3 separate regions of the Homo sapiens genome follow, and all the other regions are linked to region 2. Evidence: fine-mapped expression QTL. A gene starts in region 2. Each other region holds a variant in brackets. All regions are shown on one strand. Distances are between the middles of the regions. Region 1 has its middle 34 kb from the start of VSTM1. Region 2 holds the start of PRPF31 (pre-mRNA processing factor 31). Region 3 holds the start of LOC102724273 (a long non-coding RNA gene).

The links.
Region 1: its variant is fine-mapped to the expression of PRPF31 in thyroid (GTEx, PIP 0.96).
Region 3: its variant is fine-mapped to the expression of PRPF31 in lung (GTEx, PIP 0.95).

The regions. Positions count from the first base shown.
Region 1 is chr19:54,025,711-54,033,884 of GRCh38, forward strand. No RefSeq gene overlaps it. Among named protein-coding and RNA genes, the nearest start is that of VSTM1, 34 kb to the right of the region's middle. The variant AT/A (reference allele first, on the strand shown) is at 3,104.
Region 2 is chr19:54,111,887-54,120,058 of GRCh38, forward strand. PRPF31 (pre-mRNA processing factor 31) reads left to right here and starts at 3,868. Exons shown (of 14, transcript NM_015629.4): 1 at 3,868-3,911; 2 at 6,385-6,569; 3 at 6,687-6,747. The coding sequence starts at 6,393. It overlaps TFPT (TCF3 fusion partner), which reads right to left and starts at 3,771. Exons shown (of 6, transcript NM_013342.4): 1 at 3,361-3,771; 2 at 2,556-2,814. The coding sequence starts at 3,383. PRPF31-AS1 (PRPF31 antisense RNA 1) reads right to left here. Exons shown (of 4, transcript NR_186329.1): 4 at 7,624-8,172. RefSeq lists an enhancer at 2,057-2,930.
Region 3 is chr19:54,150,015-54,158,175 of GRCh38, forward strand. It overlaps CNOT3 (CCR4-NOT transcription complex subunit 3), which reads left to right. Exons shown (of 18, transcript NM_014516.4): 14 at 2,212-2,311; 15 at 2,414-2,612; 16 at 2,853-2,985; 17 at 3,701-3,826; 18 at 5,295-5,667. The coding sequence ends at 5,393. LENG1 (leukocyte receptor cluster member 1) reads right to left here. Exons shown (of 4, transcript NM_024316.3): 3 at 6,749-7,011; 4 at 5,147-5,926. The coding sequence ends at 5,707. LOC102724273 (a long non-coding RNA gene) reads right to left here and starts at 2,213. Exons shown (of 4, transcript XR_001754001.3): 1 at 1,700-2,213; 2 at 1-664. The variant C/T (reference allele first, on the strand shown) is at 4,126.

The DNA of each region.
Region 1 (8,174 bases), 86 kb before region 2:
AATTAGCATAAGAAATGTACTTCTTAACAAAGCCAGCCTGGGCAACATAGTGAGATTCCCATCTCTACAAAAAAAAAAAAAAAAAAATTAGCCCAGTGTGGTGGTGCACACCTGTGGCCCCAGCTACTTGGGAGGCTGAGGCAGGAGGATTGCTTGAGCCTGGGAGGTCAAGGCTGCAGTGAGCTATGATTGTGCCACTGCACTCCAGTCTGTGTGACAGTGCAAGACCCTGTCTCAAAAAATAAAAAGAAAAAAAAAGAAACATACTAAAAAAGGACACATATTAGCAATATGAAACAAGAACAATTTTCCATAAAGCAAGAGGCTTATGGAAATAAAAAGTATAAAAATACATGATGGTAAAAAATATATAACATTATCCTCTAACAGAATAGGCAGTAGGGTGGGTGCCGTGGCTCACGCCTGTAATCCCAGCACTTTGAGAGGCTGAGGTGGGATGATCACTTGAGACCAGGAGTTCGAGACCAGTCTGGGCAACATGGTGAGACCGTGTCTCTTTAAAAAAAAAAAAAAAAAAGGCAGAATTGATACAGCTGAAGAAAAATGAACAAGTAAGAAAATGTGGTGGAGGAACTTCTCCAGGAAGCTGATATAATTATATTAAGATCAGAAAAAATAAGAGAAAAGTCATCGTACGATATAAGGGACAGGTGTTTCTCAAAATCCAAAATCTTCTCTGCTAAGAGAATCCTGATTTTGTTTTTGTTTTTGTTTCTTGAGATGCAGTCTTGCTCTGTCGCCCAGGCTAGAGTGCAGTGGTGCAATCTCAGCTCACTGCAAACTCCACCTCCCAGATTCAAGTGATTCTCCTGCCTCAGCCTCCCCAGTAGCTGGATTACAGGTGCTCGCCACCACACCCAGCTAATTTTTGAATTTTTAGTAGAGACGGGGTTTCACCATGTTGGTCAGGCTGGTCTCAAACTCCTGACCTCGTGATTCGCCCACCTCAGCCTCCCAAAGTGCTGGGATTACAGGCCTGAGCCACCGCACCCAGCCGAGAACCCTGATTTTGTTCAGGTGTCAGTTGGCCACCCTTGTTCCTTGGAGACTTGGCCCTTTTCTAGTTTCAGGCATGAATCTTGATTAGTCTAAGGCTTAGTGACGTGCTGGTTGTGAAAGTGTGGTCCCTGAACCAGCAGCGTCAGCATCACCTGGGAGCTCGTCAGAAAGGCAAATTCTTGAGCCCCACCCCAGACCTACTGAATCAGTCAGAAACTCTGAAGGTGAGCTTTTCCTTTCTCCTCCTCTCCAACCTATGGTTTGACAAGTCCTCCAGGTGATTCTGATGCACACTGAAGTTTAAACACCTTTAGCCCAGTTAGGTAAACTCACGCCCACTGCTAGTGGTTATTTAAGGAAGGGGCTGGATGCAATTGTGTTTCTTGAGATGTGAGTGGAAATCTCGTGGGAGGCTTCCTCATGTTGGAGAGGGCCGCGTTGGAAGGGCCTTTCTATGCCCTTCGTCTGCTTTTTATCTCATCCTTTCCAAAAAATTAACTTTTTATTTATTTATTTGAGACAGAGTCTTGCTCTTGTCGCCCAGGCTGGAGTGCAGTGGCGCGATCTCGGCTCACTGCAACCTCCACCTCCTGGGTTCAAGCAATTCTCCTGCCTCAGCCTCCCGAGTAGCTGGGGCTACAGGCACCTGCTACTATGCCCAGCTAATTTTTGTATTTTCCGTAGAGACAGGGCTTCACCATGTTGGCCAGGCTGGTCTCAAACTCCTGACCTCAAGTGATCTGCCCACCTCAGCCTCCCAAAGTGCTGGCATTACAGGAGCGAGCCACCTCACCTGGCTTAACTTTTTATTTTAAAATAGTTCTGGAGGCCAGGTGTGGCAGCTCACGCCTATAATCCCAGCACTTTGGGAGTCTGAGGCAGAAGGATCTCTTGAGCCCAGGTGTTCAAGACCAGCCTGGGCAACATGGCAAAATCCCATCTCTACAAAAAAGTTTTTAAAAATTAGCATTTGCCTGTGCGTCCAGCTTCTCAGGAAGCTGAGGCGGGAGGATCACTTGAGCTTAGGAGGTCAAGGCTGCAGTGAGACACCATACTGGGATTACAGGCGTGAGACACCACTCCAGGTCTGGGTTCTCTTTTTTTTTTTTTTTTTTTTTGAGACAGAGTCTCACTCTTTCGCCCAGGCTGCAATGAAGTGGCACCATCTTGGCTCACAGCAACCTCCACCCCGCAGATTCAAGCGATTCTCCTGCCTCAGCCTCCTGAGCAGCTGGGATTACAGGCGCCCGCCACCAAGCCTGGCTAATTTTTATATTTTAGAGATGCCCAGGCTGGAGTACAGTGGTGCGATCTCAGCTCAACACAACCTCCACCTCCCGGATTCAAGTGATTCTCCTGCCTCAGCCTCCCCATTAGCTGAGATTACAGGCATGCACCACCACGCCCGGCTAATTTTGTATTTTTAGTAGAGACAGGGTTTCTCTGTGTTGGTCAGGTTGGTCTCCAATTCCTGACCTCCGGTGATCTGCCTGCCTCGGCCTCCCAAAGTGCTGGGATTACGGGTGTGAGCCACTGTGCCCGGCTGATCTTACATTTTCTTGTGCACTTATTCATGAGCTTTTTTTTTTTTTATGAAAATGAATTCCTACCATCCATTCTCCTTCCAAACTGCTCATACCCAGTATTCCCAAGGTTTTTGCACATGTATATAACAGAATGTCAAAGTAGATTCATTGCAATCTCAGTTTCTGCTCAGGCCCAAAGATTATAGATGCCAGCGAGGTCAGATCTCACAGTAAGGCCATTTCTGCATGACTTCAGGAGAAAATGCTGAAAACCTAATTTCCCCACACCCTTGGCCTCTTGTCCACCTGAAGGTAAGAAAGGAGTGTTGGGGGGAAGGGGGAGGGATAGCATTAGGAGATATACCTAATGCTAAATGACGAGTTAGTGGGTGCAGCACACCAGCATGGCACATGTATACATATGTAACTAACCTGCACATTGTGCACATGTACCCTAAAACTTAAAGTATAATAATAATAAAATAAAATAAAAATAAATAAATAAATAAAAATTAAAAAAAGAAAAAAAAAAGAAAGGAGTGTTGAGATTAGAAGGT[AT/A]TTTTTTTCCTATTGGGATACAGGTGGTGTTTGGTTGCATGAGTAAGTTCTTTAGTGGTGCTTTGTGAGATTGTGGTGTAGCCATCACCCAAGCAGTATACACTGCACCCCATTTATAGTCTTTTATCCCTCGCCCCCCTCTCACCTTTCCCCCCAAGTCCCCAAAGTCCATTGTATCATTCTTATGCCTTTGCATCCTCATAGTTTAGCTCCCACATATCAGTGAGAACATATGATGTTTGGTTTTCCATTCCTGAGTTACTTCACTTAGAATAATAGTCTCCAGAGATTAGAAGAGTTTTTGTTTTGTTTTGTTTCTGTGTGTTTGTTTACGTAAGCTGTTGGTGTGCTGTGAGTCCCATCCTCTGTCCACCGTAGATGTGTGATGGAGGATGACAGTCTCTTCAACTGGACAATTCAGAGTAGTTATATGGGGTGAGGGGCGGGTCCAGAGAGGAATGGGGTCTGATATGGTTTGGCTTTATGTCCCCACCCAAATCTCATCTTGAATTGTAATCCCCAGGTGTTGGGGGAGGAACCTGGTGGGAGGTGATTGAATCATGGAGGTGGCTTCTACCTTGTTGTTCTCATGATAAAGTGAGTTCTCAGGAGATCTGATGGTTTTATAAGCGTTTGGCAAGTTCCTCCTTTGCTTGCTCTTCTCTCTCTCTTGTTGCCTTGTGAAGAAGATATTTGCTTCTCCTTCCCCTTCTGCCATGACTGTAGTTTCCTGAGGCCACCCTAGCCATGTGGAATTGTAAGTCAATTAAATCTCTTTCTTTTTTTTTTGAGACTGAGCCCCCCTGTCATCCAGGCTGGTGTGCAGTGGTGCAATCTCAGCTCACTGCAACCTCCGCCTCCTGGGTTCAAGCGATTCTCCTGCCTCAGCCTACCGAGTAACTGGGACAACAGGCATGCGCCAATAGCCGGCTAATTTTGTATTTTTAGTAGAGGTGGCGTTCACCATGTTGACCAGGCTAGTCTCGAACTCCTAACCTCAAGTGATCCGCCCACCTCAGCCTCCCAAAGTGCTAAGATTACAGGTGTGAGCCACCACACACGGCCTCGGCTATTTATAGCAGTGTGAGAACGGGCTAACACAGGGTCTTTCCTCACTGGAGAGAGAGGGTGGGAGGAGAGAGAGAGGGTGGGAGGGGAGAGAGGGGAGAGGGGAGAAATGGGGGAGGGGGGGAGAGGGGGGAGAGAGAATGAATATGAGAATGAATGTACCAGGAGCTTTTATCCTTTGCAGGAGCGCCACCTGGAGGTAGGAGGTGAAGTCTGCAGAGAGAAGCTGGAAATGTACTGACGGATCCCCAAGGATTCAGTAATGTGACCAAGTGGAGGAGCTGCATTTACAGGCATCAAGGGAACTGCAGGTGAGAGGTCTGCAGCCTTGCAAGAGAGTGGGGGAAGCAGGAGAAGCTCCACGTGGGGAGATAAAGGAAAAGCTGACCACGCTTCCTCCACGTTGCAGGCAACCTGCCGAAAGGATTTTAATCACTGAGCTGACACTGTATTTTTTTCTTGTATGTGACTTTTTTAAGAAGCAGCTGGAAGTCTTTATGACCTAAGATGACTATAAAAATTATGAGAAGGCCGGGCGCAGTGGCTCACACCTGTAATCCTAGCACTTTGGGAGGCCAAGGTGGGCGGATCACTTAAGGTCAGGAGTTCGAGACCAGCCTGGCCAACATGGCGAAACCCTGTCTCTACTAAAAATACAAAAATTAGCTGGGCGTGGTAGCACATGCTTGTAATCCCAGCTGCTCGGGAGGCTGAGGCAGGAGAATCACTTGAACCTGGGAGGCAGAGGTTGCAGTGAACCATGACTGCACCATAGCACTCCAGGCTGGGCAACAGAGCAAGACTGTCTCAAAAAAAAAAAAAGTTATGAGACTTGCTTTACATGTCACCCAAGGGCACAGGTAAAGAATTAGACCTAGGAGTTGGGTTGATAGGGCAATGGGAAAAAAGAAAAAAATTGTTTACTGAATCAAGGGAATAATCACACCTACATCTTTGCAACTCACGTGCTTACAACTAGGGCAACCAAATTGTTCCGGTTCGCCCAGGATTTTCTCTGGTTTAGCCCTGAAATTTCTGTGTCCTGGGAAATTCCTCATTTCTATTTTAAAACCGAAAGTCCCACATCCTAAGACACACACACACGCCCCTGCACACACCAATCCTGGTAAAACGGTAACAGTTGGTCATACTATCTACAACAACCCTATTCGAGATCTGTGTCTTCACGATGAGGAAAGGCACATGCAGTTCTGGAGATTTTAACACGTGTTCCCAAGGTCACACAACCTGCCCTTGTATCCAGCACTGAAAGCAGATGACTCTCCTCTTTCCACGATTCTAAGCCTCTTCCCGTAGCATGTCCCATGTGGAGGAGAAAAGTTAAGAAAATGAAACTGGCCAAAACTTGCTACTGCATTTGTGATTTTAGAAAGTAAATGATCAGACATTATTAAAATTATCAATGCAAAAAGAAAGTGAGACTGAACAGATTGTTTACCTTAACAAGATCAAGTTAAACTCGTATAGGGCTTATATATAATGCCGCTTAAAAGCTCAAGTTTATGCGGGGCAGTTTTGGTGGAAGAAGCTCAGGCAGTCCCTCTGGTGGTCGTTATAGATCTGGCCGTGGAACTGGTGGATATGAAAACAGAAGGTTCTAAAAACAGCAGAAAAGGGCAACAGTTCTTAGCAGGAGAGACAGTGAGGAAAGCTGCAGGTTACTTGGAGACAGTCATCCCAAATGCATTAGAGGAGGTGTAAAAATCTGCCACAGAAGGAACAATGATCCATAGTCAGAAAAGTTACTGCAGCTTAAGCAGGAAACCCTTCTTGTTCAGGACTGTCATAGCCACAGTTTGCAAAAAGTGCAGCTATTGATTAATGTGATGTAGTGTCAATTAGAGGTACATCCCTGAGGTCTTTAAAACAAAACAAACTCAGCCAGGCACGGTGGCTCACACCTGTAATCCCAGTGCTTTGGGAAGCTGAGGCAGGCAGATCACCTGAGGCTGGGAGATTGAGACCAGCCTGGCTAACATGGTGAAACCCCGTCTCTACGAAAAATACAAAAATTAGCCCGGCATGGTGGTGGGCGCCTGTAATCCCAGCTACTCAGGAGGCTAAGGCAGGAGAATTGCTTGAACCCAGGAGGTGGAGGTTTCAGTGAGCCAAGATCGTGCCACTGCACTCCAGCCTGGGTGACAAGAGTGAAACTCCGTCTCAAAAAATAAATTAAATAAATAAATAATTAGCTGGACGTGGTGGCAGGCACCTGTAATCCCAGCTACTTGGGAGGCTGAGGCAGGAGAATCACTTGAGCCTGGGAGGTGGAGGTTGCAGTGACCAGAGATCGTGCCACTGAACGCCAGCCTGGGCAACAGAGCAAGATTCTGTCTCAAAAACAAAAACAAAAACAAAAAAAGGCTCAAGTTTATGAATGAACTGTTCATATCAGGTGATGGTCTTTCAAAATAATGACTGTTTTGTACCAACTATTGTGCTCATGTGATTGATTGAACAATGCTTCCAAAGAATTTGAAACAATAAGGCAAAGAAACCTAATGTTCATAACAGAAAAAAAAATTAAATGTATAGCACTAGAAAAATTGATTTTTTTTTTTTTGAGACAGGGTCTCACTCTGTCACCCAGGCTGGAGTGCAGTGGTGCAATGATGGCTCACTGCAGCCTCCACCTCCTGGGCTCCAGCGATCCTCCTGCCTCAGCCTCTAGAGTAGCCCGGACTACAAGCATGCACCACCATGCTCAGCTAATTTTTGTATTTTTAGTATAGACAGGGTTTTACCATTTTCCCCAGGCTGGTCTCGAACTCCTATGCTCAAGCAATCAACTTGCCTCAGCCTCCCAAAGTGCTGGGATTACAGGCATGAACCACAGAGCCTGGCATGATACTAGAAAAATTCTTTTTTTTTTTTTGACATTTAAGTTCAGGGGTACATGGGCAGGATGTGCAGGTTTGTTACACGGGTAAACGTGTGTCATGGGGGTTTGTTGTACAGATTATTTTTTTTCTAGTGTATTTACTACTTCCTGATTATCAGATTATTTTATCACCCAGTTATTAAGCCTAGTACCCACTAGTTATTTTTCCTGATCCTCTCTCTGCTACCACCCTCCACCCTCTGACAGGCCCCAGCATGTGTGAAAAATTCTTATAGTCTTCTAGAAAATACAATAGGTAGCCTTTGGAACATAGGGTATCATAAAGAGAAGCTGTAGAAAATATATTTCTTTGAATTTTTTTTTTTTTTTTTTTTTACAAATGATCACTATAATGTTTAAAATATGTTTACCACCTACAGTTGTGTGCTAGGGAAGCCATAACAAAATGCCCCCCACTGGGGGGCTTATGGGACAGAAATGGATTTTCTCACCGTTCTGCAGGCTGGAAATCCAAGATGGAGGTGCCAGTAGGGTCAGTTTCTCCCGGGGTCTCTCTGCTTTGTATGCAGATGGCCGCCTTCTTGCTGTGTCTCCACGTGGTCTTTCCTCTGGATGTACATATCCTGGTGTCCTTTTCTTTTTTTTTTTTTTGAGTTGGAGTCTTACTCTGTTGCCCAGCTGGAGTGCAATGACACGATCTCAGCTCACTGCAGCCTCTGCCTCCTGGATTCAAGCGATTCCCCTGCCTCAGCCTATCGAGTAGCTGGGATTACAGGCGTGCACCACCGCGCCCAGCTAATTTTTGTATTTTTAGTAGACATGGGGTTTGGCCATGTTGGCCAGGCTGGTCTTGAACTCCTGACCTCAGGCGATCCGCCCACCTGGGCTTCCCAAAGTGCTGAAATTACAGGCGTGAGCCACCACACGTAGCCCCTAGTGTCTTTTTTATGTCCAAATTTCCTTTTTTCACAACGGCCTCTTGTCTCTAAATACAGTCACATTCTGAGTTACTGGGAGTTAGGATTCAGCACACGAATTTTGAGGAGATGTAATTCAGCCCATAATTAAGCCCTATCCTCATCAGACTGATGATCTGTGCTTTCTCTGAACTAACAGGATTTATATATTCCTTTTTAACA
Region 2 (8,172 bases):
GGAGAATCGCTTGAACCCAGGAGGCGGAGGTTGCAGTGAGCTGAGATTGCAGCATTGCACTCCAGCCTGGACAACAAGAGCGAAAATCCATCTAAAAAAAAAGAGTTCAAGTTTTGGCTCTGGCTTGGCACAGTGGCTCATGCCTATAATCCCAGCACTTTGAGAGGCCAGGAGTTCGACACCAGCCTGGGCAACAGAGTGAGACCCCAACACTCAAAAACTAACCAAAAAAATTAGCTGGGCTTGGTGGCTGTAGTCCCAGCTCCTTCGGAGGCTGAGATTGCTAGAGTCCAGGATGTTGGGGCTGCAGTGAGCCACAGTCATGCCACTGCACTCCAGCCTGGGCAACAGAGAAAGACCCTGTCTCAAAAAAAAAAAAAAAATCTCAGATCTGCCACTGCTGAGCTCTGAGCTTGGGTGCATTACTTAACCTCTCTGAGCCTTGATTTTCTATACTTGTAAAATAGTAGTAATCTATTCCTGGGGGTGGATTAATGGCAGAGGCTCCAGTTGAGTCCGTTTGGGCCTTGGTGTCTGTCTGTTAAACAGGGTTTGGAATATGCCCCTGGCCTCTAGCCTTCCTCCTTACAGAACTCCCCAATACTGTCATTAAGAATTGAGGCCAGATGTGGTGGCTCATGCCTGTAATCCTAGCATTTTGGGAGGTCAAGGCGAGTGGATCACTTGAGGTCAGGAGTTCAAGACCAGCCTGGGCAACATGGCAAAACCCCATCTCTACAAAAAGTACAAAAATTAGCCAGGTGTGGTGGTGTGTGCCTGTAGTCCCAGCTATTTTGGGGGCTGAGGCAGGAGGACTGCTTGAACCTGGGAGACTGAGGCTGCAATGAGCTGAGATTGCGCCACTGCACTCCAGCTTTGGTGACAAAGTGAGAACCTGTCTCAAGAAAGAGAAAAAGAGTTGAAGGCCAGGCGTGGTGGCTCAAGCCTGTAATCCCAGCACCTTGGGAGGCTGAGGTGGGCAGATCACCTGAGGTCAGGAGTTTGAGACCAGCCTGACCAACATGGTGAAACCCTGTCTCTACTAAAAATAGAAAAATTAGCTGGGTGTGGTGGCGGGCGCCTGTAATCCCAGCTACTAGGGAGGCTGAGTCAGGAGAATCACTTGAACCCAGGAGGTGGAGGTTACAGTGAGCTGAGATGGTGCCATTGCACTCCAGCCTGGGAGACAAGAGCGAGACTCCACCTCAAAAAAAAAAAAAAAAAAAAAAAAAAAAGTTGAATTATTTCCCCCAAAAGAGGGTGTTGAGGCTTTAACCCCCAGTACCTCAGGATCACCTTATATGGAGACAGTGTCGTTACAAAAGTAATCAAGTTCAAATGAAGCCAGTGGGTGGGCCCTAATCCAGTATGACTGGAGTCCTTATAAAAAGGGTAAATTGGGACACAGACACACACACAGGGAGCAGCAATGTGAAGATGAAGGCGGAGATCAGGGTGATGTTTGTACGTGCCAATGACTGCCAGAAACCTCCAGAAGCCAGGGGAGAGGCCTGGAAGATTCTCACAACCCTGTCGACACCTTGCCTTGGATGTCTAGCCTCCAGAACTGTCAGACAGGAATTTCTGTGCTTGAGGGACCCTATTTGTGATAAGTTCTGGGAGTCCAAGCAGACTAATACAACTGTCTTCAGAGTTTCAGGCATCCAGACCTGATGCTGTTCCTCCCCCATTTGAAACCCTTCAGTGGCTCCTTCACTCTCAAGGAAAAAAAAATATCCAGACTTCTTGTCCTGGTGTTCCTGGCCTGCCAAGATCTGAGCCCTGCCTGCTGTTTAATCCTCATTGATTGATTGATTGATTTTGAGACGGAGTCTCACTCTGTCACCCAGGCTGGAGTACAGCAGCATGATCTTGGCTCACTGCAACCTCCGCCTTCCGGGTTCAAGCAATTCTCATGCCTCAGCCTCCCTAGTAGCTGCGACTACAGGTGCGCACCACCACACCTGGCTAATTTTTTTGTATTTTAGTAGAGATGGGGTTTCACCATGTTGGCCAGGCTGGTCTCGAACTCCTAACCTCAGGTGATCCGCCTGCCTCAGCCTCCCAGTGCTAGGATTACAAGCGTGAGCCACCATGCCCAGCCCATCCTTATTCTCAGCAAGGAGGCTATTGCAGTCATTCAGCCCAGACAGCTGGAGTTTGCAATGGCAGCCATAGGGATGGAGGAGAGGAGAAGGGTCCAGAGACACTCAAGAGGCGGAATGAATGAGTCGAGAGGAGTGAATCCTGGCAGGGGTATGGGAGATGTGAAGAGCTTGGGCTTTCACCTGTGAGCGGTGCCACGCATTGAGAGGCCCCCGGGAGACATCAGAGAACCCATCTGCGTTGTCAGGGAAGCTCCACGGGAGATGGCCCTTCCAGGGGCCCGGCACAGGGCCAGACACATAATGCATGCTAAATGACTGAATATATAAGCTAAATGACTGAATATATCAGCAAGCCAAGAAAGGCTGGGCATGTGGAAAGGCAGAGATTGCGGGGGGCGGTAGTTTAGGCCAGGGGACCCCAAAACCGGGGGATCCGCACTCACCTACCTGCTCGATCTCCCGGCAGCGCCGACCTAGTGCCTGGTACTTTCTGCGATTTAATTCCCGCTGGCGCCGCCGCCGACCCCGGGCTGCCTCTTCCTCTTCATCTCGCTCCCGGAGCCCTGAGCCGCCCAGACCACCTGACACAAACTCCACTTCCGTCTCCAGCTCGCTCTCCAGGATGTGGCCACCAAATAGGGGAGGCAACGCCAACTCTGAGCCTGGCGGCGCTGAGAACTCCTCAAAGCCCACGGCTGCCATGGTCCTGAGAGGCAGGGAAAGGCTCAGGGGCCCTGGATCCTGGACCCCCAGCCCCTTCTCCCACTGAACCAGGAGCCCAGACCCCAACCCCTCCTCCCTGAGATCCTAGAATCCAGGCCCCCAGCCCCTCCTCCCTCAGACCGTAGAATCCAGCTCCCAGCCCTCCTCCCTCAGACCCAGAAGTCCAAGTCCGCAACCCACCCTTCGCAGCACCCACAGGGTTCAAGCCCTGACCCCCTCCTCCCAGGATGCAAGAGTCCAGACCTCCAGACTTTTTCTCTCCAAGGACCCAGGGAGTCCAAGCCCCAACCCTCAACCAGACGCAAGAGTCCTGGCTTCCAACCTCCTAGTCTGTCAGATCCAGCAGTCCAAACCCCTAACCTTCTCCTCCCTCAGGATGACCCCAGTCCATAAAAGGGTTCTAAGGTAAAGCAGTTGCATGAACTACAACCCCCATCAGACCTCAGCGTAAAAGCTCATATGGTTGCACACAATGCAGCTGCACTGTTTTCTGGGATTCGCACTTTTTCACAAGGGCTCAGCCACATACCCTTCTCTCTGCTCCAATTCCATCTCCGCGACCTCCGGAAGCCCCGGGCCTCAGAGCTTCCGACCTCTTCAATCTGTAGGTTAAGCCGTTCGCAAAACTACTTGTCCCATCAGGCTCAGCAGCCGAGGACGGCGGGACGTGGCCCTAGGCCTTGTGGGAGTTGTAGTTTCCTGTTTCCGGCTTCGCTTCGGCCCACCCCCACGTCCACCCCGAATCCCTGCTTAAAGGCCTTGCTTTCTTGTCTAACGCCGCAACCAGTCCTCTGAGTTGCCAACGTCTTTCTTCTTGTCTCGACGCCCCGTCGTCCGGCCACAGCGATTCTCTGCTTAGCAGGATCGGTCCACAGCGGGACGTGAGTCCCTTTCCTCCTCGCGGCTTACCGCCTCTCTCCGCCTAGTGCCAGGTGCTAATAAAGTTGTTGTTTCAAATGCGGCCAGGAACATCGCGAGCGGGGACCAATCAGAGAGTAGCTTTGCCTCTATAACGGCGCGAGAGTGAGACGTCATCGGTGAGCGACTAACGCTAGAAACAGTGGTGCGCGGAGAGGAGAGGTGAGTGTGATGGGGACCACGGGGAGCGGGAGGCTGGGCTCCTGGGTCTGGGAGAAGAAGTGTGTGAGGAAAAAGGCGGGTCTTTACAGCTTGGTTTTTGTTTTTTTGTTGTTTGTTTGTTTTGAGACGGAGTCTCGTTCTGTTGCCCAGGTTGGAGAGCAGTGGCGCGATCTCGGCTCATTGCAACCTCCGTCTCCCGGGTTCAAACGATTCTTCTGCCTCAGCCTCCAGAGTAGCTGGGATTACAGGCGCCCGCCACCACCCCTGACTAATTTTTGTATTTTTAGTAGAGACGGGGTTTCCCCATGTTGGTCAGGCTGGTCTCGAACTCCTGATCTCGTGATCCGCCCGCCTCGGCCTCCCAAAGTGCTGTGATTACAGGCATGATCCACCGCGCCTGGCCAGTTGTTTGTTTGTTTTGTCTGAGACGGAGTTTCGCTCTTGTTGCCCAGGCTGGAGTGCAGTGGCGCGATCTCGGTTCACTGCAACCTCCGCCTCCCGGATTCAAGCGATTCTCCTGCCTCAGCCTCCCGAGTAGCTGGGATTACAGGCGCGCACCACCACGCCCGGCTAGTTTTTTGTATTTTTAGTAGAGACGGGGTTTCACTATGTTGGCCAGGCTGGTCTCCAACTCCTGACCTCAGATGATCCACCCGCCTGGGCCTCCCAAAGTGCTGGGATTACAGGCATGAGCCACCGCTCCCGGCCTTTTACAGCCTGTTTACCCAAAAGTCTTAATATGCGCCTACCATGGTGTGGCCCTGGGGATGTGGAAGGAGCAAAAATTGTTCGCTACCCTCTTAGAGCTTTGGTTGATGCCTGGCAGACAGGCTTTATCAAATAATTACTTCATTAATCACAAATGTGTGAAGTGCCTTACTGTAGACACGCAGAGCGTGCGGGACACGTTATCACAAAGCAACCTCCTGTAGTCTAGAGTGGGGCGTGTGGGTCAGGGAGGTGGAACGTGAGAGCTGAAGGCTGAGGAGATGCTGGGCTACTAAGAAGTGAGGAGAGCCAGACGCCATGGCTCACTCCTGTAATCCCAGCACTTTGGGTGGCCCAGGCGAAAGGATCGCTTGAGCCCAGGAGTTTGAGACCAGCCTGAGCAACACAGTGAGACCCTGTCTCTACAGAAAAATTTAAAAATTAGCCGGGCGTGCTGGTGCGTGCCTGTCATCTCAGCTATCGGGAGGCTGAGGCGGGAGAATCGCTTGAGCCCAGGTGATCGAGGCTGCCGTGAGCTATGATGGCGCCACTGCACTGCAGCCTAGGTGACAGAGCAAGACATGGTCTCAAAAAAAAGAAAAGAAAAGAAAAAACAAAGTGAAGGAAAGGGCCACTTTAGTTACAAGGGACTCCTGTACAAAGACCTGGAGGCGGGAAGAGACCGATAATGTAACCAACTCAAGTTTCTGCTACTCAGAGGCAGAGGAAGTGGGGGGTGGTGAAAGTAAAGCAGCTTTACTGATCAAATGCTCGCAGATGAGAAATGGCCAAGCTAATGTCTTTAGAAGACCATTTCAAGCTTTAGGCTGGGGAGAGGGGCTTAAAAAGGGGAACTTTGAATGGGAGGCATACAGGAGTGGTGCTGGGTACAAGGTATGTGTGTCTTGCTCCGAAGGCTGTCTTGAGTCACGGGCCACCTGGAGCATGGGCTGGTGTCAAGTCAACAATGGCCACGTTGTAGATTGATCGCCTTGAGGTGATCTCTGGAGTTTTGCAGCTGGGTTTCCATACCTAGTTTGTTTCAAGATTAGCCCCTGCGGCGAGGCGCGGTGGCTTACGCCTGTAATCCCAACAGTTTGGGAGGCCAAGGTGGGTCGCTCACTTGAGGTCAAGAGTTCAAGACCAGCCTGGCTTACATAGTGAAACCTTGACTCTACAAAAAAAAAAAAAAAAAATTAGCTGGGCATGGTGGCAGGTGCCTGTAGTCCCAGCTACTCAGGAGGCTGAGGCAGGAGAATCGCTTGAACCCAGGAGGTGGAGGTTGCAAGTGAGCCAAGACTGCGCCACTGCACTCCAACCTGGGTGTCAGAGCCAGACTCCATCTTTAAAAAATAAATAAATAAAGATTAGCCCCTGGAACTTCTAAGTAAGCACATAGATAAGCCAGCAGTGCAAGACAGTATCTAGTGGGAAAGGAGGGAAACAAAGAATTTCAAAGTATGTTTTCAAGGCTAAAGGCAAGAAAGGAATAAGAAAGTTTGCAAATGCATTTGGAATCTACACCACTTGGTTCCAGTAAGTCTTAGCAAGGTGGCGGTCATAGGGGTGTGCTGCGTCTTGCACAGGTCGGAGCTGGAGACTCGCCAGTGAACAAAACAAACTAAAGCACCTGTTGTCGTGGAGCCTGCATGCTAGTGGGGTTGATAAAGAAGGACCAGGGTCTTCTGGGGGAGAATCATCGCTCAGTAATAAGGAGGGACTTTGTCGGGGCAAGTTTTTAGGGAACGCTGCTGTCCCTCCCCAGGCCTCGGGATGTCTCTGGCAGATGAGCTCTTAGCTGATCTCGAAGAGGCAGCAGAAGAGGAGGAAGGAGGAAGCTATGGGGAGGAAGAAGAGGAGCCAGCGATCGAGGATGTGCAGGAGGAGACACAGCTGGATCTTTCCGGGGATTCAGTCAAGACCATCGCCAAGCTATGGGATAGTAAGATGGTAAGAGGACAAGAGGTGTTCCTAGCAGGGGGCTCTAGACAGAATCTCCCAGAAGGGGGTGATACAGGCTTCTTTTTGAAGAGTGCTGGATTCTGACTGTCTTCTCCTTTCCTACAGTTTGCTGAGATTATGATGAAGATTGAGGAGTATATCAGCAAGCAAGCCAAAGCTTCAGAAGGTGCTTCCTCCCACTCTGTGCCCCTCCCCATCTCCTGTCTCTCCTGCCAGGCCCCCTGGCTCCCTGGCTGCTTGTGGCTGGGTATATCTCCTTCTCAGCCTTTTCCAGAGCCTTCTTTTTTTTTTGTTTCACCCCAACCCGTTCCCTTTTCCACTAAATATATATTGCATTGTAAAGCTCATGCTTCTTAAGTCCTTCCTGTGTGCTGAGCTTACTGATCATGATAGGACTCAGCTTGAGGTTTCCCAGACTTCACTGATTCACATGACCGGTTACAGGGTTTTTGCCACATCTATAAGCCGCTTATCCTATTATTTGCTTAACATATTCTTTGAGTCTAGGACTTTTTTTCTTAAATTTATCTGAGAAGGAAGCAAATTGCTACCATGAATGGAAAACTGGTATCATTTGGCAAAGACAAAGTCACTGTATAAAAATAGATATATAATTATTTAGGAACCACCTAAGGCCGGGCGCCGTGGCTCACGCCTGTAATCCCAGCACTTTGGGAGGCGGAGGCAGGTGGATCATGAGTTCAGGAGATCGAGACCATCCTGGCTAACACGGTGACACCCCGTCTCTACTAAAAATACAAAAAATTAGCCAGGCGTGGTGGCGGGTGCCTGTAGTCCCAGCTACTCAGGAGGCTGAGGCGGGAGAATGGCGTGAACCTGGGAGGCGGAGCTTGCAGTGAGCCGAGATCGTGCCACTGCACTCCAGCCTGGGCGACAGAGCAAGACTCCGTCTCAAAAAAAAAAAAAATAACCTAAAACCTTTTCTCATGCCCAAATTGAGAGAACACTAGCTTATCTCATGAGTGCTCAGACTCACTCTTAAGAGGGCAGTCCTGTTACCATTCCTATTCTTTTTTTTTTTTCCTTGAGATAGAGTCTCCCTCTGTCGCCCAGGCTGGAGTGCAGTGATGTGTTCTTGGCTCATTGCAACCTCCACCTCCCGGGTTCAAGCGATTCTCCTCCCTCAGCCTTATGTATAGCTGGGATTACAGGTATGCAACACCATGCCTGGCTATTTTGTATTTTTTAGTAGAGATGGGGTTTCACCATGTTGACCAGGCTAGTCTCGAACTCCTGACCTCAAGTAATCCGCCCACCTCGGCCTCCCAAAGTGCTGGGATTACAGGCATGAGCCACTACGCCCAGCCTTCCCATTCTTCTTGAATGGAATTTGTTGATGACAGGAAGCCATAGGAGGTTTCTGGGGAAAGAAGTGTAGTGAGAGGGCAGAGTTTCGGGAGACTCACTGCTTGCTTTCTTTAACGTTTACCTGGGCACCCAGTTGAATCGCCCAGGTCTTTGCTCTCAAAGTACTCAAGGTCTAGTGGAAGAGGCAGGCCAGGTTCCAGACAGCTATCAGTGGTGGTACCAAGCTGGGGACACCGGAGCCACAGGAGGGACTGGCTGACCC
Region 3 (8,161 bases), 38 kb after region 2:
TTGCACTTGTTGCTTGCTCTCTCTGGGTCTCCATCTTCATCCCCCCCGCAGGCCCTCAGTTTCTGTCCCCGTTTGTCCTCACAAGGCATAGACTGGTGTACTTTCTGCACAAGTAGAAAGACTGGTTGGGTGAATGCAGCCTGGTTCCACCCTTTAGGAAGCTTCCCTGCTGGGGCAGCTGCAGGGAAGGTTGCGGTGGGCCCACCGAGGGGCATCTGACCTGACCTGGGAGACAGGCCCAGGAAGGTCTGAGAGGGGGTGATGTTTAAGCTGAGACCTGGACCAGGCAGGGGGGCTAACAGCTGCAGGAAGGGCTTCAGGAGGTGCTTTAGGAGGAGCATGCATCTGCCTGTGTGCTTAGGAAGCTGGGCAGGATGCAGCAGAGAGGAGAGAGGTGTCCACTCTGCAGGAGACAGTGCCACCAGCTGCAGGGCTGAGATAGTGGGTGTAGCAGGATAGGACGGTGGGGTCCTGATCATCGAGGGTCAGGAGCTGGGGCTTGGCTTGTGAGCCAGTATACTGTAGCGCAGCTTCCATGGGGGGACCAGTGTGTATGCCCAGGCTGTCCAGGAGGCAGTGTGCGCGCCCAGGCTGTCCAGGAGGCAGTGTGCGCGCCCAGGCTGTCCAGGTCCAAGTCTTGGCATTGTCCTTTCTGTGCCTTCATCTGGGAAACGGCAATAGTCACGATTATACCTACTATGTAGGGTTATTTGGAAGACTAAATCATCCTCATAAAGCTCTTGGAACAGTTTCTGGCCCAACAGAAGCATTAATTTTTTTTTTTTTTCTTTTTTGAGACAGAGTCTTGCTCTGTCACCCAGGCTGGAGTGCAGTGGTGCAATCTCAGCTGAATGCAACATCCGCCTCCTGGGTTCAAGCGATTCTCCTGCCGCAGCCTACTGAGTAGCTGGGATTACAGGCGCCTGCCACCACGCCAGGCTAATTTTTATATTTTTAATAGAGATGGGGTTTTGCCATGTTGGTCAGGCAGGTCTTGAACTCCGAACCTCAGGTGATCCACCCACCTTGACCTCCCAAAGTGCTGGGATTACAGGTGTGAGCCACCGTGCCCGGCCCAAATTTTAGAAGTAGGTGGACAGGATATTTATAGTGCGTGCATTTTTCTGGAAAAAGGGAAACAGCAGCTTTGAGATTTTCAGAAGGGGTCCATATCTTTTAACACCACCAACAACAAAAATGAATCGCTGGGGTGGGTGGTCGGGAACCATGGCAAGGTTTGGAGTAGAGAAGGAACAACATGACTTCATTGGAAAGGTCCCCTGGGGCTGGTGAGGACAGGATAGAGGGAGGGTGGTCTGGGCAGGAGAGGACAGGCCTGGGCTGTGTGGGACATGGTGGCACGACAGGGAAGGGAGCCATCCAGTGGGGTTTAGAAGCAGGACGGATAGCTGGGCGTGGTGGCTCACACCTGTAATCCCAGCTCTTAGGGAGGCAGAGGCGGGAGGATAGCTTGAGCCCAGGAGTTTGAGACCTGCCTGGGCGATATAGCGAGACAGGATGGATAAGCCTTGGCGACTGACTCGTTGTGGAGAGTCCAGCACAGGGCTGGGGTTTGGGACAGCTGCACGTGGCTGGAGGAGATGGGAGGAACCAGCCCTGACTTTGGGGAACAGAAGCCTGCTGTAACCTTTGTAATAGGAAACGAGGCTGTGGCTGCGGGGCTGGAGACCCAACCTACCTGTTTCCAGCAAGGAGACTGAAGCCTAGCCGGGCTGGGCCCACCCCGATTCCAGTCACCCCATGCCAGTCACAGGCAGACAGCTGAGCATGTAGACCTCCTGCCTCCTTCAAGACAGGCGGGAGCTCTCCCAGCGTGTAGGTGTCCCTAGTGAAGGAGCGTGTACTATTGGCACATCCTTTGACAAAAATGGTAGCGCACTGTACATATTCTGCAGGTTGGCGTTTACTTCTGTAGTATGTCACGAACTTGTATTTTGAAAATCTCGGCGTAGTATTCCATGCTGCAGAGTCCCACTCACGAGACGTTCCTCTGCTGATGAATGCGTCGTGGTCTCCGATTGTTTCCCTACAGTTTGATGCTTTTACCTGTCATGGGTAGATTGTGGGGAGTGGGTCGTTGGCCCTCCACGGCCCCCAAACAGGGCAGGTGAGAGCATCTGGGGCCTGTGTCAGGCTGCACTTGCTCCTGCAGCCCAAGTGCTCAGGCCAGGCCTCTTGTTTCCTCCCCAGGCCCCTGAGCCTCTGAGCTCCTTGAAGTCCATGGCGGAACGGGCAGCCATCAGCTCTGGCATTGAGGACCCTGTGCCAACGCTGCACCTGACCGAGCGAGGTGAGGGACCCAGGATGGTGGGGAAGCAGCGGGCCAAAGAGGAGGGGCTGCCCCTGACCCATCCTCACCACTGAGGGGGCCGGACCCCCACCCTCCCCACAGACATCATCCTGAGCAGTACATCAGCACCTCCGGCCTCAGCCCAGCCGCCCCTGCAGCTGTCAGAGGTGAACATACCGCTGTCGCTGGGTGTCTGTCCACTGGGCCCTGTGCCCCTCACCAAGGAGCAGCTCTATCAGCAGGCCATGGAAGAGGCCGCCTGGCACCACATGCCTCACCCCTCTGACTCTGAGCGTATTCGGTGAGGGGCCACAGGGAAGGGGGATGGTCTGGGACTTGAGTCTTACGGAGGAGGCAGTGGCTGAACCTGTGAGGCTGTGGGTAGAGCACCAGGCCCCTGACTTGGGCTCTCCACTGAAGGTCAGCACCGCCCTGGGTCTTTCTGTACCACCTCCCCCCGCAGGGATGCATGTCTGAGCACCCTTTTGATCACGACAGGACTAGTAGGCAGCTGGCACTGACCTTCCTGTTGCTCTCACAGGCAGTACCTCCCCCGGAACCCCTGTCCGACGCCCCCCTACCACCACCAGATGCCACCCCCACACTCGGACACTGTGGAATTCTACCAGCGCCTGTCGACCGAGACACTCTTCTTCATCTTCTACTATCTGGAGGTACAGCAGGGCCCCCGGGGCAGCCTCGGGCCCCCCGGCTTCGCCGCCACCGCCGCCGTCCCCCCTCGGGCTGGAGGGGTGAGGTGGGTGCCCCACTGCGGCCACTGGGACCGCACCCCCTCCCTATTCCCACTCCTGGGCCCCTGCCCCAAATCCACCTGTCCCCGTCCCCGCCTTCCAGCCCAGAGATGTTAGAACTGCTTGGGTTGACAGCGAGGCTGGTCCACTGAGGCACACCTCAGCCCCGCTTCCAGTTGCCCACTGGCTCACCCGCGGCCCCTCCCCAGCCCTGCTCCAGCAGCCCCAGTCTAGGCCGACCCCACTCTGCTCATTGGCACATTCTCAGGCCTCCCTGGAGACCACTGGGGAGCTGTCCAGCCCCCTCCCAACCCCAGTGAGTCATGAGTGACCTCCACCCTCATCCCCACTTGGGAAATTTTCTAAATTGCCTCCTCTCTCAGCTCTCATCACACATTAGTTTTTCTTCCTTCTCAAAGCTTCTCTGAAAGCAATTTTCACCTCCTGTCTCATTTTCCTTCTCCTGATCAGCATTGGTATGTTCTGTGCCCCCAGCCCCATCTCCAAGAGGATTGTCCAGCCCAACTGTGGTCTGTGGCGGGGGCCGGGGTTCAGCCCTGATGTCCTGCCCCATTCCCCTGGCTCCCCACCCAGTTTGGGGGCCCCCTGATCCCCCTCTCCACTGTTCCTCCCCCAGGGCACTAAGGCACAGTATCTGGCAGCCAAGGCCCTAAAGAAGCAGTCATGGCGATTCCACACCAAGTACATGATGTGGTTCCAGAGGCACGAGGAGCCCAAGACCATCACTGACGAGTTTGAGCAGGTGAGGGCCCCGCCCCCTCTCTTCCCGCTGCTAGGGTTGGGGTAGAGTCCCCAGGCTCCAGGCAGCCCCTGCTGGCCTCTGCTCCCTTGCCTCCACCTTTCAGCTGGCGCAGTCCCTCAGCCTGACCAAGTACTCCTCCCTCTGGCTGTCTGCTCAGCCTGGAACACCGCCCTCTCATCCTCCACTTGGCCAGCTCCTAGGCCTCCTGTAGGTCTCAGCCCAAATGTCCCTTCCTCAAAGAAACCTTCCTGGAGCCACCCAGCCCAGTGCCTCCCCTTTGCAGTGCTGGGCACACTCGC[C/T]TGGGGTGTGGGATTTTCCCAGTATGTGTCCCTGCACCAGGCTGTGGGCTCTGCTGCCGAGGGACCTTGATGGCCCCCACTTCACCTCCAGGTCCCAGCACTCAGCAGGGCAGGGGCTCAGTGCGGAAACTATTTTTTTTGAATGGGCTTCTCAAGTTCTAATACTGGGAAATTCCTGCTGCTTGCAAACACTCTGGAACCAACCTACCTGGGTTTCAGCCCAGTCCAGCTGGGCGACTCTAGGCAAGTCACTCGAACCTCTGTGTCTCAATTAACTTATCTGTAAAAATGGGGGGAAGACCACCTACCTAATGCAGTTGTTATGAAGATTAAATGAGTTAATAACATGTAAGTACTTAATGGTGACTGCTACATAGTCAGTGTCATGGATTTTTTTTTTCAAATTACTTTCAGTTGGTGTGTTCTACAGTGATGTTTTTTTCCACCAAATACTTCCCTGATGCCGAGCCCCTTCATGGGGATGAAGTAGTACAAGGTCCTTGTCCTCAGAGAACTCAGTCCCCTCTCCTGGTTCTCCCAGGTTGCCATCTTTGAAGCACTTAAGACATTCATTTAGAACCTAGGTCCTCTCCCATTGTGTCCTCAGATGTTAACCACAGACTTCCTGTCCTTTCCTGGTTTGGCCCAAAACCATCCTCCAAGTTAGTACATTTCAGGGCATCCAGTCATTCAGAAATTCCCACACCACTTCGTCACCAATAAAATGTCCCTGCAGAGTGCTTGGATTTAGACTCTGAGACTGTTCCATTCTCTAGAACAAGGGTGACAGTACCCACTGCCTCGAGGTCTTTGTGAAGATTAAATGCTAGGCTGTGCATCCTGTACTCACGTGAGAGGTGCTCAAAAGCCACAGCCCTCGAGGAAACGAAGGCTGTGCACTCACACCTGGGGCTGGGGCCCCGTTCTGGCAGCTGGCTTCGGTGGAACCTCTGCGGCCCCCTCCGTTTCCTCCTCGCTGAAGTGGCATGATAACATTTCCTACCCAAGAAGAACCTTGTGAGGATGGATGAGAGTGTGTGCGTGCAGGGCAGCTGGCCCGGTGCCTGACACATCCACAGCCCTAAGAATTGTCCCCTTTGTCTGTTGGTCCGGCCCAGATCCCAGACCACCTCCTCGTCCACTCACTGACCGCCTTCTCCCCCGGCCAGGGCACCTACATCTACTTTGACTACGAGAAGTGGGGCCAGCGGAAGAAGGAAGGCTTCACCTTTGAGTACCGCTACCTGGAGGACCGGGACCTCCAGTGACACCGGCCCCTCCCTCTACCCACCCCCTTCCCCCGCATGCTGATCCCCCTGCCCAGGTGAGGGCCCTGCCCTGGAAGACTGGAGGGAGGCCCCAAGCCACGGGGCATCCCCCTCTCCCAGGAAGCAGGGAGGGGGCCGGGAGGTTTTCCTCTCAGCCCCACCCTGGGGGCCCGGGGGCGAGGGCTGCCCCCTCCTCCCCTCCCCAGTGAGGGACATTTTTTGGTAAACCTATTTTCATTTTGGAAAATATTTATGAATAAATAGTTTTATATGACGGCTGGCAGCAGCGGCCTCTCCTGTACCCCCTCAGGAGTCAGTGAGTAAGGTGAGGGTCCTGCTGGCGGGGGCGCCGGGCCAGCTGGGGGTTGAATTGGGAGTTGTACCGCCGCCGCCGGTCATCCGTCTCGTCTTCTTCCGGCTGACCCTCCTGTAGTGCCCGGCCTTGGACCCGGGCCAGCAGGGCCTCTGCCCGAGACCTCTCAGCTGCTTCCCTCCGCAGACGTTCAGCTCGAAGCTGGTCCAGGGATGGAGGCCTGTGGGGAGAGGAGTGAGGTCAGAAAGCTGGTAGCCCCTAGGAGGCCATTCCCCCAACCTCTCCCATAGAGGGAGCTGCCGCCTGGAAGCCCCGCTGCATCCAGCACACCCCAGCCTCAGCTCCTTAGGCCTGCTGGAAGCAGCCACTTGGTGCTGGGACGCCATGGGCACGTCTCTGGCCTTCCCTTCTGTGGGCTTTGGTCCTCCCCAGTCTTTAAAATCTGATGCTTCTCCAGGTCAAGAAAGCACACTTAGCAGCCCCCTGGCCCTCAGTTTCCCTTTCTAGAGGAAAGAAGACTACAGGCAGTGTACCCCCTCTAGACCAGGGGTGCAGCATCCTGGAGACAGAAGCCTGCTTTTACTCTCTAACCCAGCAGCTCTCAAACTCTTTGGTCTCAGGACCCCTTTATACTCTTAAAAACCAAGGACCCCAAGAGCTTTTGTTTAAATGGGTTCTCTTAATATGCTGCAAATCATTAGTGAAAACTAAGAAAGTTTGGACACAAGCATCTGCCATTGGCCATCAGAGTGAGGGTGTCTCCCCATCACACAGCCTCTGGAAACCTGCACTACATGCCTGAGAACACGAGTGGAAAAGTCCACCAGTGTCAGGAAAATAGGCTTGACACCACAGCACCCCGGGAAAGGGTGTCAGGACCCCTAGGGCTCCCTGGACCACATGCTGAGAACCACTTCTCCACCTAGCCAGCCCTTCACGGAGTCCCTGGCTGTCCTGACCAGAGACGCTGCAGTGCCCATGCTGGGCTGCTGCCAAGCCCTGAAGGTCTGGGCCCTGGTCTGCCGAGGTGGGGTCTTCTTACTCCTTGGGTCGCTGCTTCTCAGACCCCTCCTTTTCCTTTCTGCTGCGACTGCCTTCATCACCGCCGTGCTGTCTCTTCTTCCCCAGATGCTTCTGCATCTCCCGCAGAGGGTCCAGACGGCTCTTGATCTTCTCATCTGGGGCTGGGCCGGGCGGGGGGCCCCCTCGCCCTGGGGGTAGCTGGTACCAAGGGGGTTGAGTCTGTGCCTCCGCTGCACTCTGGCCCAGGTATGTCAGGATGCCCAGAGCTTTCTCTTGCCTCTCCTGAGGGGGCCAGGAAATACAAGAGATGTGATATAATCTTTCAAGGTGTCAGGTGTGTCTCCCTGACACAGGTATCTAAGCGAACAGGTATCTAAGGCTTGTTATGAACCAGTTGGACCAGGTGCTGGGGATGGAAGACAAACAGAGGCAAAGCTCCCCCTGGGGGGACAGTAGCAGGTACAGTAACAGCAGGGGAAGGAGGGGACAAGTGGAGCCACTTGAGTGTTCAGAGGCAGGCATCTTTGCAGAGAGACTTGAAGAGAAGCCTGAAGGGATCAAGCAAAGCAGAGGAGCGATGGGTGGGGTCAGCAAGTCCAGAGACAGCAGATAAATGACAAGAGCTGATGTACCTCTTTTTTTTGAGATGGAGTCTCGCTCTGTTGCCCAGACTCGAGTGCAGTGGCACGATCTCGGCTCACTGCAACCTCTGCTTCCCAGGTTCAAGCAATCCTCCTACCTCAGCCCCCCGAGTAGCTGGGATTACAGGCACACACCACCATGCCCAGCTAATTTTTGTATTTTTAGTAGAGACGGGGTTTTGCCATGTTTGGCCAGGCTGGTCTTGAACTTCTGACCTCAGGTGATCCACCCACGTTGGCCTCCCAAAGTGCTGGGATTACAGGCGTGAGCCACCATGCACAGCCACTGATGTACCTTTTACACTTGATCTTAGCCAAAAAGCAAGAGGCGATTGATTCACTTTTTGTTTGATTGTTTTGAGATGGGGTCTCGCTCTGTCACCCAGGCTGGAGTGCAGTGGCGCAATCTCGGCTTACTGCAGCTTCCACCTCCTGGGTCAAGCGATTCTCCTGCTTCAGCCTCCCTGGGATTACAGGCGCGCACCACCATGCCCGGCTAATTTTTTTTGTATTTTTAGAGATACCATGTTGACCAGGCTGGTCTTGAACTCCTGACCTCAGGTGATCCACCCGCCTCAGCCTCCCAAGGTGGTGGGATTACAGGCGTGAGCCACAGCCGGCTGATTTAAATTTTTAAAAGCCCATCAGGTTTGAGACTCCTCCAGTTTGGAGAACTGAGCGGTTTGCCCAGCAGCTGGGGACCTCTAGCATCTACCTCCAACCCCTGTGGGCGCCCAGACGGCAATAGCCAACGCTTTTTGAGTGTCATGCCTTGGTATGGTCCTAAATTC